2 separate regions of the Homo sapiens genome follow, and region 2 is linked to region 1. The links come from fine-mapping of genetic effects on gene expression. A gene starts in region 1. The other region holds a variant in brackets. All regions are shown on one strand. Distances are between the middles of the regions. Region 1 holds the start of MRS2 (magnesium transporter MRS2). Region 2 overlaps GPLD1 (glycosylphosphatidylinositol specific phospholipase D1).

Evidence for each region. PIP is the estimated chance that this variant, and not a neighbour inherited with it, causes the effect.
Region 2: its variant is the best candidate, but not a certain one, in a credible set for the expression of MRS2 in testis (GTEx, PIP 0.64).

Annotation. Positions count from the first base shown.
Region 1 is chr6:24,400,116-24,405,355 of GRCh38, reverse strand. It overlaps MRS2 (magnesium transporter MRS2), which reads right to left and starts at 2,420. Exons shown (of 11, transcript NM_020662.4): 1 at 2,120-2,420; 2 at 115-188. The coding sequence starts at 2,309. RefSeq lists enhancers at 1,049-1,783, 3,992-4,727, 4,728-5,240 and silencers at 3,541-3,835, 4,721-5,015.
Region 2 is chr6:24,432,521-24,437,779 of GRCh38, reverse strand. It overlaps GPLD1 (glycosylphosphatidylinositol specific phospholipase D1), which reads left to right. Exons shown (of 25, transcript NM_001503.4): 21 at 491-667; 22 at 1,044-1,204; 23 at 4,391-4,417; 24 at 4,543-4,593. Among named protein-coding and RNA genes, the nearest start is that of MRS2, 32 kb to the right of the region's middle. The variant G/A (reference allele first, on the strand shown) is at 2,644.

The sequences.
Region 1 (5,240 bases):
GCTATGATGATTATAAAGCTCAAAATAAGTAGTATCTTGGCCAACAGTCCAACGAGTTAACTTATGTATGGGAAGCACTTTCTGTACGATTTCCAATGTACTGTACATACTCACCACAGTAAATACTGGGGCTACACTGGCTAAAGTGGCTTGAGAGACGTCAGAGGTTCTAAACCGGTGCACTTCACCTGAAGAATAAATTAAGAGAATTCCTGTGGTCACATGATTGGTTTTCACATAGAGCTAAAATACAACTCTCAAAGTATGTGGAGGCCTTCAGACTATTTTATTATTTTTAAATATTTTTCCTATAAGAAAAGAAGAAATACTCTTCTTAATTTTAACATCTGTTAGTGACTATCTTAGGTTTGGCAGGGAATGATTTTTAAAACTAATGGCTTAGGTGAGGCATTAAAATAACTGATGGATTCCAATCACCCTTTTACCTTTCTAATTATTACTGATATCTCAGAGTTGGATGAACAAATGTGCAACATCGTGTTCTGAGATTTAAGAAAATGTCTGGTCTTCCTTTTCGCATAATTTAAAAGACTCTTCATGCACATTTGGTAGTAGATACATTTTAGAAAACATAGGTCCTAAGTACCACCTGATCTTTCAAGCATTCCAGTTGACTGGCTCATAAATTATGAAACCTATGATTTTACTTCTTTTCTACAGATATCCTTTATAGTGAATACTTATGAAATACCCCCACTGAGCTGAAATGACAAATCTTTATTTTAAAATTGTCTATTTAAAACGTGATTAGACTGAGTCGAAGTGAGCGGTGAAGTATAATCAAGTACATTTAATGACTGACAGAGGACACTGTTTTGTGCTTCCAAAGTAATTACACTGATTCCAGAGACTGTAGAAAAAAAAACCTATTTCTGATCTTTTTTCTACTACATACACGTAATGATTGTTGTAATTTGTTAGTATCTGAAGTTTCATTTCCCTTTTACAAAATACAAATTATCACTATAAGGGTAAGATGAATAAAGGTAAAAGGCATTTGCTGATTACAAATGCCTTTCAATGTTTTAATGTCACAAATTAGAGTGTAACCGGGATTGAGATTGTGAACGTCAATGCTTGTCCTAAAAGTTTCCTCCAACTTGCTGAAACTGGATTCCCAAGCATTATCAATTGAGGGTGCAGAGCATGTAACCCAACTTAGCCTCTCCAATAAGTGGAGAATGAGGTGCTGACGAGGAGTTACTTTGGGAGGCTTTTGAGAGCACAATTGAGAAAACATATTTGAGGACACTGCTATGTTCTTAATAAAGTCATTCATTTCAATACCTTTTATTCCTCAAATATTTGCACTCACATTTGTGAAAATCTTAACTTTTCACCATGCTTCAACATTTGGTGAAAAAATAAACAGCAAATAAGATTTTTTTTTCTCAATCCGATCTCCCTGGCTGTTTACTTATAGAGTACTGTAGTTGAAAGTAAGTCGTTCTCAGAAACAACTCAGTCTTTAGCCTCACTTCTAGGTGCGTCCCCAATCTCCGTGCAACTGGACAACTGTATAAATGTGTCCATAACGAAGAAACAGAAAACAGGGAAGTATTAATTTATACTTATGACTTCCGAACAGATGAAATCCTTGTTTAAAAACACCTCTCGGCCAGGTGTGGTGGCTCACGCCTGTAATCCCAGCGCTTTGCGAGGCTAATGCGTTAGGATGGCTCGAGGCAAGGAGTTTGAGTCCAGCCTGGGCAACATAGTAAGACCCTGTCTCAAAAACAACACAGAAAAAACCTCTTACAAGAGCACTTAAGCGGGTGTTAACTAACGTGATCACGGTCTGTAAACGATTCCTAGGTTGTTCCTATGGTTACATAATCTGCAGCAAGGGCGGTGGAGGAGAAGGCAGAGGGTTGGCCGCTGGGACCCCGGCAGGGCACAGCGCACATAGCAAGGTCGCATTCTGAGCGAGTGGGACGCAGCTCGGCCCGCGGGCCTGTGCAAGCTCACAGGACACGCGGGAGGCCGAGGCCTGCGGAGGGCGCGGAGCAACAGGCGCGCCGCGCCGGACGGCTGGGGCAGCAGTCTAAGGTCACTGCAAGACCAGCGTCCCAAGGCTGTTGCCGGGGAAGGGCAGTACCTGCCACGCGGAGCCGGTCGGGCCCGCAAAGCTGCGCCGCTCGGCTCCTTCCAATCAGGTTGGCTCGGCGGCCGCAGGCAGCAACGGGAGGACCCACAGAGGTCACGTCCAAGGCCAGGGCACACAGCGTCCGCCGGGGAAGTCTCATCGCGCGGGGCAGGAGGCAGGGTAAACTGCGCAGGCATTCCATGGTGCTGGAGCAAGAAGCAGGCAGCAGCCAGACCCCAGACCTTCATGCCGGACGCTGGCTGCTCAGGCCGCAGCTCTGACCTGTCGCTACCGCCCGACCTGCAGACTCTGTGCACCAGGCATGCGCGGGGCGTGCCGCGCCTGCGTGCTACTTCCCCACGCATGCTCGGAAGGTACCTGTGGGCGAGCCTGTTAAGTCCACAGCCAATAGACGTTTGCTTGCCTACCTGTACCTGCACCTGTACCTAAGTGAGGGGGCAGGCGGGCTGGGAGATGGGTGGAGCACGTTTACCTGCACTAAGTGAGCTGTCCAACCTAGGTTCTTGGGCGCTTGGAGTGTCATGGTTTTGTAGTTTGTGGAGAATTTTCATACCTATGAAAATTGCAGTTTGGAAATGAGCAGGTTACCCATTCCCACATCATTTAATTTATATTTAAATTTAACGTGGTGTAGGGAGCAAGAGGGAAAGCTCCTACTTTTGCCCTCTGAAAGTTGCTGGAATGAACTAAGTAGACAGATTAGCAGGAGAAAAAGGCATACAAAATTTGCTTAACGTGCATAGGGAAAAATCACAGAAGAGTGATTACTCAATAACTCAATTAAGGTCCAGATGCTTGTATACCCTTCTTTGTTGAGTAGAGGGAGATAGGTATGAATGGGCCCGAAAGCCAGACAGTGGTTTGCAAATGATTCTCCTTGGACATTCAGTGGGACAGAAGTACAAACAATCGCTTGTGGACAAGCTGTGAAACTTCACTCTGAACAAAAATTGTCCTATTATACAGGTAAAGTTTCCCAGGTAATCTCTTGGAGCTACCCTCAGAAGTATCTATGAAAAGTCTCAGTGTGGCTATGACTTTCAGTTTTTGTCTCTTCTCTGGGTGATTAATCTCTTCTGATTATTTAATGCGATTCCTAAGGAACGGGTTTTAAGACAATTGCATTTCTTTGGAAAAGAGTTTTCTCTGTCAGATAAGGAAATTCCTTATCTGGCTGTGCAGGAAAAGAGAGCCCCTTCAGGTGCTTGGAAAAAGTAAGAGTATCAGAGAGACAAAAGGAAGGGGGAAGGTGAGAGAGAGAGGCCTTGATTTTTAGGCTTCTTTCTGAGACCCTTTTAATTTCCTTTAATTCAAAGACTCAACATGCCACCGGGCGTGGTGCCTCATGCCTGTAATCCAGCACTTTGGGAGCCAAGCACTTTGGGAGGCCAATGTTGTGGACCACTTGAGGTTAGGAGTTCAGGACCAGCCTGGCCAACATGGCAAAACCCGTCTCTACTAAAAATACAAAAATTAGCCGGGTGTGGTTGCAGGTGCCTGTAATCCCAGCTACTTGTAAGGCTGAGGCATAAGAATTGCTGGAATCCAGGAGGTGGAGGTTGCAGCGAGCCCAGATCATGCCATTGCATTCCAGCCTGTACTGCATTCCAGCCTGTACGACAGAGTGAGACTCCCATCTCAAAACAAACAAACCCCAAAGACTCAGCATGCCAAAACATCATATTTTGGGGTATTATGGTTTGAGCCCCAGTAGTGGCAAAAATAATCAACTGTCATATGGAATGATGTCATGTATTAAACTTTTGCTATAAAGAATGAGGAGCACAGACACATAAGATTTCTATTCCATATTTAATAAAATGTAAGATAGCATCAATTTTAAGGTACCATTATTTTATGTACCACCAAGAAAGAAAAAAAAACTGATAAGTTATGCTTTCTAAACATGTAGATTGAAAGACATATCTCAATTCCAGTCTTTAAAATATGAAAAAAGTCTTAGGTTAAATACAGTATGTATGCATATTTTAAAAATATGAGTTAATAAATTTATTGTCCCTTCCACAGTAGTAATACAAGGCAGACACAAGTTCCACAGACTTCCTTTCAATATCTATGTATGGACACAAAGCTAAGGAGACAGAGATAGAAACATTTTATTCTGCAGGGTACTGGGACTGGGGATGGAGTAGGAGGGCAGTGCACAAAGAGAAGCCTTCACAGAAGAGAGGATGTTTGACTTGATAATGTGGGGAAAAGAAAGAGAGATCAGATTGTTACTGTGTCTGTGTAGAAAGAAGTAGACATAAGAGACTCCATTTTGTTCTGTACTAAGAACAATTCTTCTGCCTTGAGATGCTGTTAATCTGTAACCCTACCCCCAACCCTGTGCTCCCTGAAACATGTGCTATGTCACCTCAGAGTTAAATGATTAAGGGCTGTGCAGGATGTGCTTTGTTAAACAAATGCTCGAAGGCAGCATGCTTGTTAAGAGTCATCACCACTCCCTAATCTCAAGTACCCAGAGACACAAAACACTGCAGAAGGTCGCAGGGACCTCTGCCTGGGAAAGCCAGGTATTGTCCAAGGTTTCTCCCCATGTGATAGTCTGAAATATGGCCTCGTGGGAGGGGAAAGACCTGACCGTCCCCCAGCCCGACACCCGTAAAGGGTCTGTGCTGAGGAGGATTAGTGAAAGAGGAAGGAACGCCTCTTTGCATTTGAGATAAGAGTAAGGCATCTGTCTCCTGCTTGTCCCTGGGCAATGGAATGTCTCAGTGTAAAGCCCGATTGTATATTCCATCTACTGAGATAGGGGAAAACCGCCGTAGGGCTGGAGGTGGGACATGCTGGCAGCAATACTGCTCTTTAAGGCATTGAGATGTTTATGTATATGCACATCAAAAGCACAGCACTTTTTTCTTTACCTTGTTTATGATGCAGAGACATTTGTTCACGTGTTTACCTGCTGACCTTCTCTCCACTATCATCCTATTGTCCTGCCACATCCCCCTCTCCAGGAAACACCTGATAATGATCAATAAATACTAGGGGAACTCAGAGGCCGGTGCCGGCGCGGGTCCTCTGTATGCTGAGCGCCAGTCCCCCGGGCCCATTTTTCTTTCTCTATACTTTGTCTGTGTGTCTCTTT
Region 2 (5,259 bases), 32 kb before region 1:
GGCAGAGAGCACATCATGTCCAAAGGCCCAAATTTAAGACATAGATTGGGCTGTGGTTTAAGTTCATTTTGGTGAAGTGTGGGTGAAAAGGTTAATGGCGCTAGATCCCCAAGTGGGAGTCAGATTCTGTAAGGCCTTGTGAAGAGTTTGGACTCCATCCAGAGTCCACTTGCGTTTGGATGTGTCAGTCATGGGGGTGACCTAGTTTGTGATACGAGAAAATAAAAAGGTGGCTGTGTGGAGACTGTATTATGGGGATAAGACTGGAAAAAAGAATACCTGCCTGGAGGGAAATCACTGAAGCTCTCTGGTGTTTGTGCCTTGGTGCCCAAGCTGGTTGTACCTCCCTGACTGCCGGAGATGACCAGCTCCGAAACCGACTGTCCTGTAGGATCCCGAGTGATCAGTGTCACTTGAGGATGGGGTGCTATTCCGTGTTCTGTAATGCCTTCCTTTCTGTGAGGCCAGCAGGAACTGTGGTTCGTTTCAGATGACGTGTCTAAGGTGGCATTCCTGACCGTGACCCTACACCAAGGCGGAGCCACTCGCATGTACGCACTCACATCTGACGCGCAGCCTCTGCTGCTCAGCACCTTCAGCGGAGACCGCCGCTTCTCCCGATTTGGTGGCGTTCTGCACTTGAGTGACCTGGATGATGATGGCTTAGGTAAGAAAGGAACAGGACCCTTTGACAAGAATTGAGTCCCTTTGCCCAGGGGGTGGGTCCCCTAATTGGGTCATCTGGGCTCTGCCCTTATAATTGACAGCCCAGTGGCCCAAGGACCTTTAGACAGATCTTGAATGAGGCAAGACCAGAGAGGGAGTTGCACTTCTTGAAGCTGGTAATATGAGAATCACCTGTAGTAATTGCTATTGATGAATGAAGTAGGAAACAAAAGCCTTTGCCAGGATGAAATCACAGCCGACTAAAGGAGATACTAATATTATTTGTAAGAGGTTGGGTTAGGATCCAGTAGCGGAACAAGGAAAAGATGACAGTGAGGAGTCAAATACTTCCTTCTGTCGGTTTTTATTGTTTTCAGATGAAATCATCATGGCAGCCCCCCTGAGGATAGCAGATGTAACCTCTGGACTGATTGGGGGAGAAGACGGCCGAGTATATGTATATAATGGCAAAGAGACCACCCTTGGTGACATGACTGGCAAATGCAAATCATGGATAACTCCATGTCCAGAAGAAAAGGTAAGTGTTCTACAAAATTCTATAACTTATTGGGAAAGGATCACTAATTGCTGATTCCTTGTTAACTCATGTCCACTATAAAGTGCTTACCTGAATTCATACCTCCTAGGGTCAGGACACCATCATCTGTCCATGTTTTGTGGGCCCCAGCTGCCTGCAGTTCTTACAGTTCTGCAACATTTGTGCCCAGAGCTAAAGTCCCACTGGACTTGGTGTTATGTAGGTCCCTGGTCACACAGCCTGCCACTGCTTGGTTAGGCACCCACAGCACAGAAGAAAGAAAACAGGCCATGGCCATTGGAGTTTCTCTTTTTAAAATAGAGACGGGTTCCTGTTCCATTGCCCAGGCTGGAGTGCAGTGGTGTGATCATGGCCCACTGCAGCCTCAAACTCCTGGGCTCAGGTGATTCTCTTGTCTCAGCCTCCCGAGTAGCTAGGACTACAGGCATGTGCCACCACACCCGGCTAATCTTTTTATTATTTGTAGAGATGGGGCCTCACTATGTTGCCCAGGCTGGTATTGAACTCTTGGGCTCAAGCAGTTCTTCTACCTGGCCTCACAAAGTGCTGGGATTACAGGCATGAGCCACCATGCTCGGCCAGCCACTGGAGTTTCATTAAAACGTCCTCTCTTTTGCTTTTTGTTTCATTTCTTTGTTTATTCCTTTTTTGGGTGAGTTTCCTTAAGTTACATTTCCTGGGCCTAAAGCATTTGGCCATTATTTAACTTTTTTTTTTTTTTTTTTTTTTTGAGACAGCGTCTGGCTCTATTGCCCAGGCTGGAGTGCAGTGGCACGGTCTCGGCTCACTGCAACCTCCTCCTCCCAGGTTCAAGCCATTTTCCTGCTTCAGCCTCCCGAATAGCTGGGACTACAGGCATGCACCACCACGCCTGGCTAATTTTTTGTATTTTTAGTAGAGACAGGGTTTCACCATGTCGGCCAGGCTGGGATTACAGCCCAAAGTGCTGGGATAACAGGCATGAGCCACCGTACCCCACCTATTTTAAAAAATTTAAAATTATTTTTTAAATTGCAAAATTAGTGAAAGTTTATTATGGAAATTTTAGAAAATACAAAAATGTACAAAGAGAATTAAAAATTATCTACCTAAAATTCCACTCTGCAGAGCTAATACCTGCTTACCTTTAGAGCGGATCCTGCTAGTATTTTTCCTATGAATTTAATTACTACCATTTATTGTGCATTTAGTATGCATATGCTAAGAACTATGTATCATTTAATCCCCATAAAAGCTATGAAATTGGCCGGGCGCAGTGGCTCACGCCTGTAATCCCAGCACTTTGGGAGGCTGAGGCGGGCGGATCACAAGGTCAGAAGATCGAGACCATCCTGGCTAACACTGTGAAACCCTGTCCCTACTAAAGATACAAAAAATTAGCCGGGCTTGGTGGCGGGCGCCTGTAGTCCCAGCTACTC[G/A]GGAGGCTGAGGCAGGAGAATGGCGTGAACCCGGGAGGCGGAGCTTGCAGTGAGTCGAGATCATGCCACTGCACTCCAACCTGGGCAACAGCAAGACTCTGTCTCAAAAAAAAAAAAAAAGAAATTAATATTATGCCCATTTACAGATTAAAAAAATTAAAGATCTCAGCTGAGTGTGGTGGCTTATGCTTGTAATCCCAGCACTTTGGGAGGCTGAGGCAGGAGGATCCCTTGAGCTCAGGAGTTCAGCACCAGCTTGGGCAACATAGGGAGACCCTGTCTTTTTTTTTTTTTTTTTTGAGACGGAGTCTCGCTCTGTCGCCCAGGCTGGAGTGCAGTGGCGTGATCTCGGCTCACTGCAACCTCCACCTCCCAGGTTCATGCCATTCTCCTGCCTCAGCCTCCCAAGTAGCTGGGGCTACAGGCGCCCACTACCACGCCTGGCTAATTTTTTTGTATTTTTAGTAGAAACGGGGTTTCACCGTGTTAGCCACGATGGTCTTGATCTCCTGACCTCGTGATCCGCCCAAGACCCTGTCTTAAAATAAAAAAATTAAAGATCAGCGAGGAAGTTTATTCAAGGTTACACTGCCAGGAAGGCAGGGCACAACAGAGATTTGAACCAAGATCTGATTCTAAAGCCTACCCTTAAGTATTACACTATGTGCGTGCATATTTTGGTTAACAATTGTGATCCTATTGTGCATAATTTGTGCATAATTTTGTAACTTTTTTTTTTTTAATGGAGTCTCACTCTGTCATCCAGGCTGGAGTGCAGTGGCATGATCTCGGCTCAGTAAAACCTCCACCTCCCAGGTTCAAGCGATTCTCCTGCCTCAGCTTCCTGAGTAGCTGGGACTACAGGCGCACACCACCGTGCCTGGCTAATTTTTGTGTTTTTAGTAGAGACGGGGTTTCACCACGTTGGCCAAGCTGGTCTCGAACTCCTGACCTCCAGTGATCCGCCTGCCTCAGCCTCCCAAAGTGCTGGGATTATAGGTGTGAGCCACTGTGCCTGGCCGTAACTTGATTTTTCTTTCTACCTAACAATATACCGAGAACATTTTCTTATGTTATCTGATATTCTTATATAATATGATATTTACCGGCTGATGAGTATTTTATCTACAGACAAACCATAGTTTATTTACCCATTATTCAGGCAACCATTGTTAGTCAATTGTGCCATTTCCAATTTTCATTGTTTTAAATAATATGGTAAATAGTCACATAAATGTTTTTATACATCTGGTTATTTTTCTGACCTGTATTTCTATAAGTAGAATTTCTGGGGTCAAAGGGCATGCACATTTGTAAGGCTAATCAAGAAATGTAGAAATGAGGCTGGGCGTGGTGGCTCATGCCTGTAATCCCAGCACTTTGGGAGGCTGAGGTGGGTGGATCACCTGAGGTGAGGAGTTCGAGACCGGCCTGGCCAACGTGGTGAAACCGCCTCTCTACTAAAAATACAAAAAAATTAACCGGGCGTGGTGGTGGGCGCCTGTAATTCCATCAACTCACGAGGCTGAAGCGGGAGACTTGCTTGAACCTGGGAGGCAGAGGTTGCAGTGAGCTGAGATCACGCCACTGCACTCCAGCCTGGGCGACAGAGCAAGACTCCTTCTCAAAAAAAAAAAAAAAAAAAAAAAAAAGTAGAAATGAGGGTATAAGGGTATAATTAAAATTGATTTTAAAAAGCCACACAAACAGTAATAACATTGTCTCTCTCCTCAATTTTTTTCTTCAGGCCCAATATGTATTGATTTCTCCTGAAGTAAGTATCCCTTGAAAGACTGAAGAAAGAAAAATTACCAAAACAATGCCCCTTGGTTTATTTTAAACGGATAAAGTATTACACTATGTTCTTCAAAGCCCATTAACAGACGGCATGTTTTACAGGCCAGCTCAAGGTTTGGGAGCTCCCTCATCACCGTGAGGTCCAAGGCAAAGGTGAGCCCAAGGACTGAACTTCATTGATGTTTATGTTAGTACTACGGGTGGGATTTGGTGGTCTCACTTGTTAGGTTTATTTCAGATTTTATTTTTATTTGAAAAGGAGAGGAACACACAGAAAGTAACATTCACATATAATCTCATCACTTCCTTGGTGGAAAGTTTCCCTTTTTACTCTTCCTATTTTATCCTCTACAGCAGGGGTTGGGGCCAAGTCGTCTGCCACCTAATTTTGTAAAGCCATGAACTAAAAAAGTCAGCTCATGTTGAGATGGTTGAAAAGAAATCAAAACAGAATGTTTTGTAACATATGAAGTTTAAACGGCAGTGCAGTTTCAGCGCCCACACAGCTGTAGTGGAACATAGCCGGGCTCGTCTGCTGTGGACTGCGCGTGGCTGCTGTCGTGCTGCCGTGGCAGAACTGACTGGTTGCTTTGGAGACTGATGCCCCACAAAGCCTAAGTATTATTATCTGCCTGTTCTCCAAAATTGTTTGCTGGCCCTTGCCTTAGAAAATAACCATTATTAGTATTTTGCTATTTTCTTCCAGACTTTCAGAGTTTTTTCTTTCTTTATTATTTTTTATACAGAACCTTGCTCTGTCGCCCATGCTGGAGTGCAGTGGTGCAAATTTGGCTCACCGCAACCTCCACCTCCCAGGTT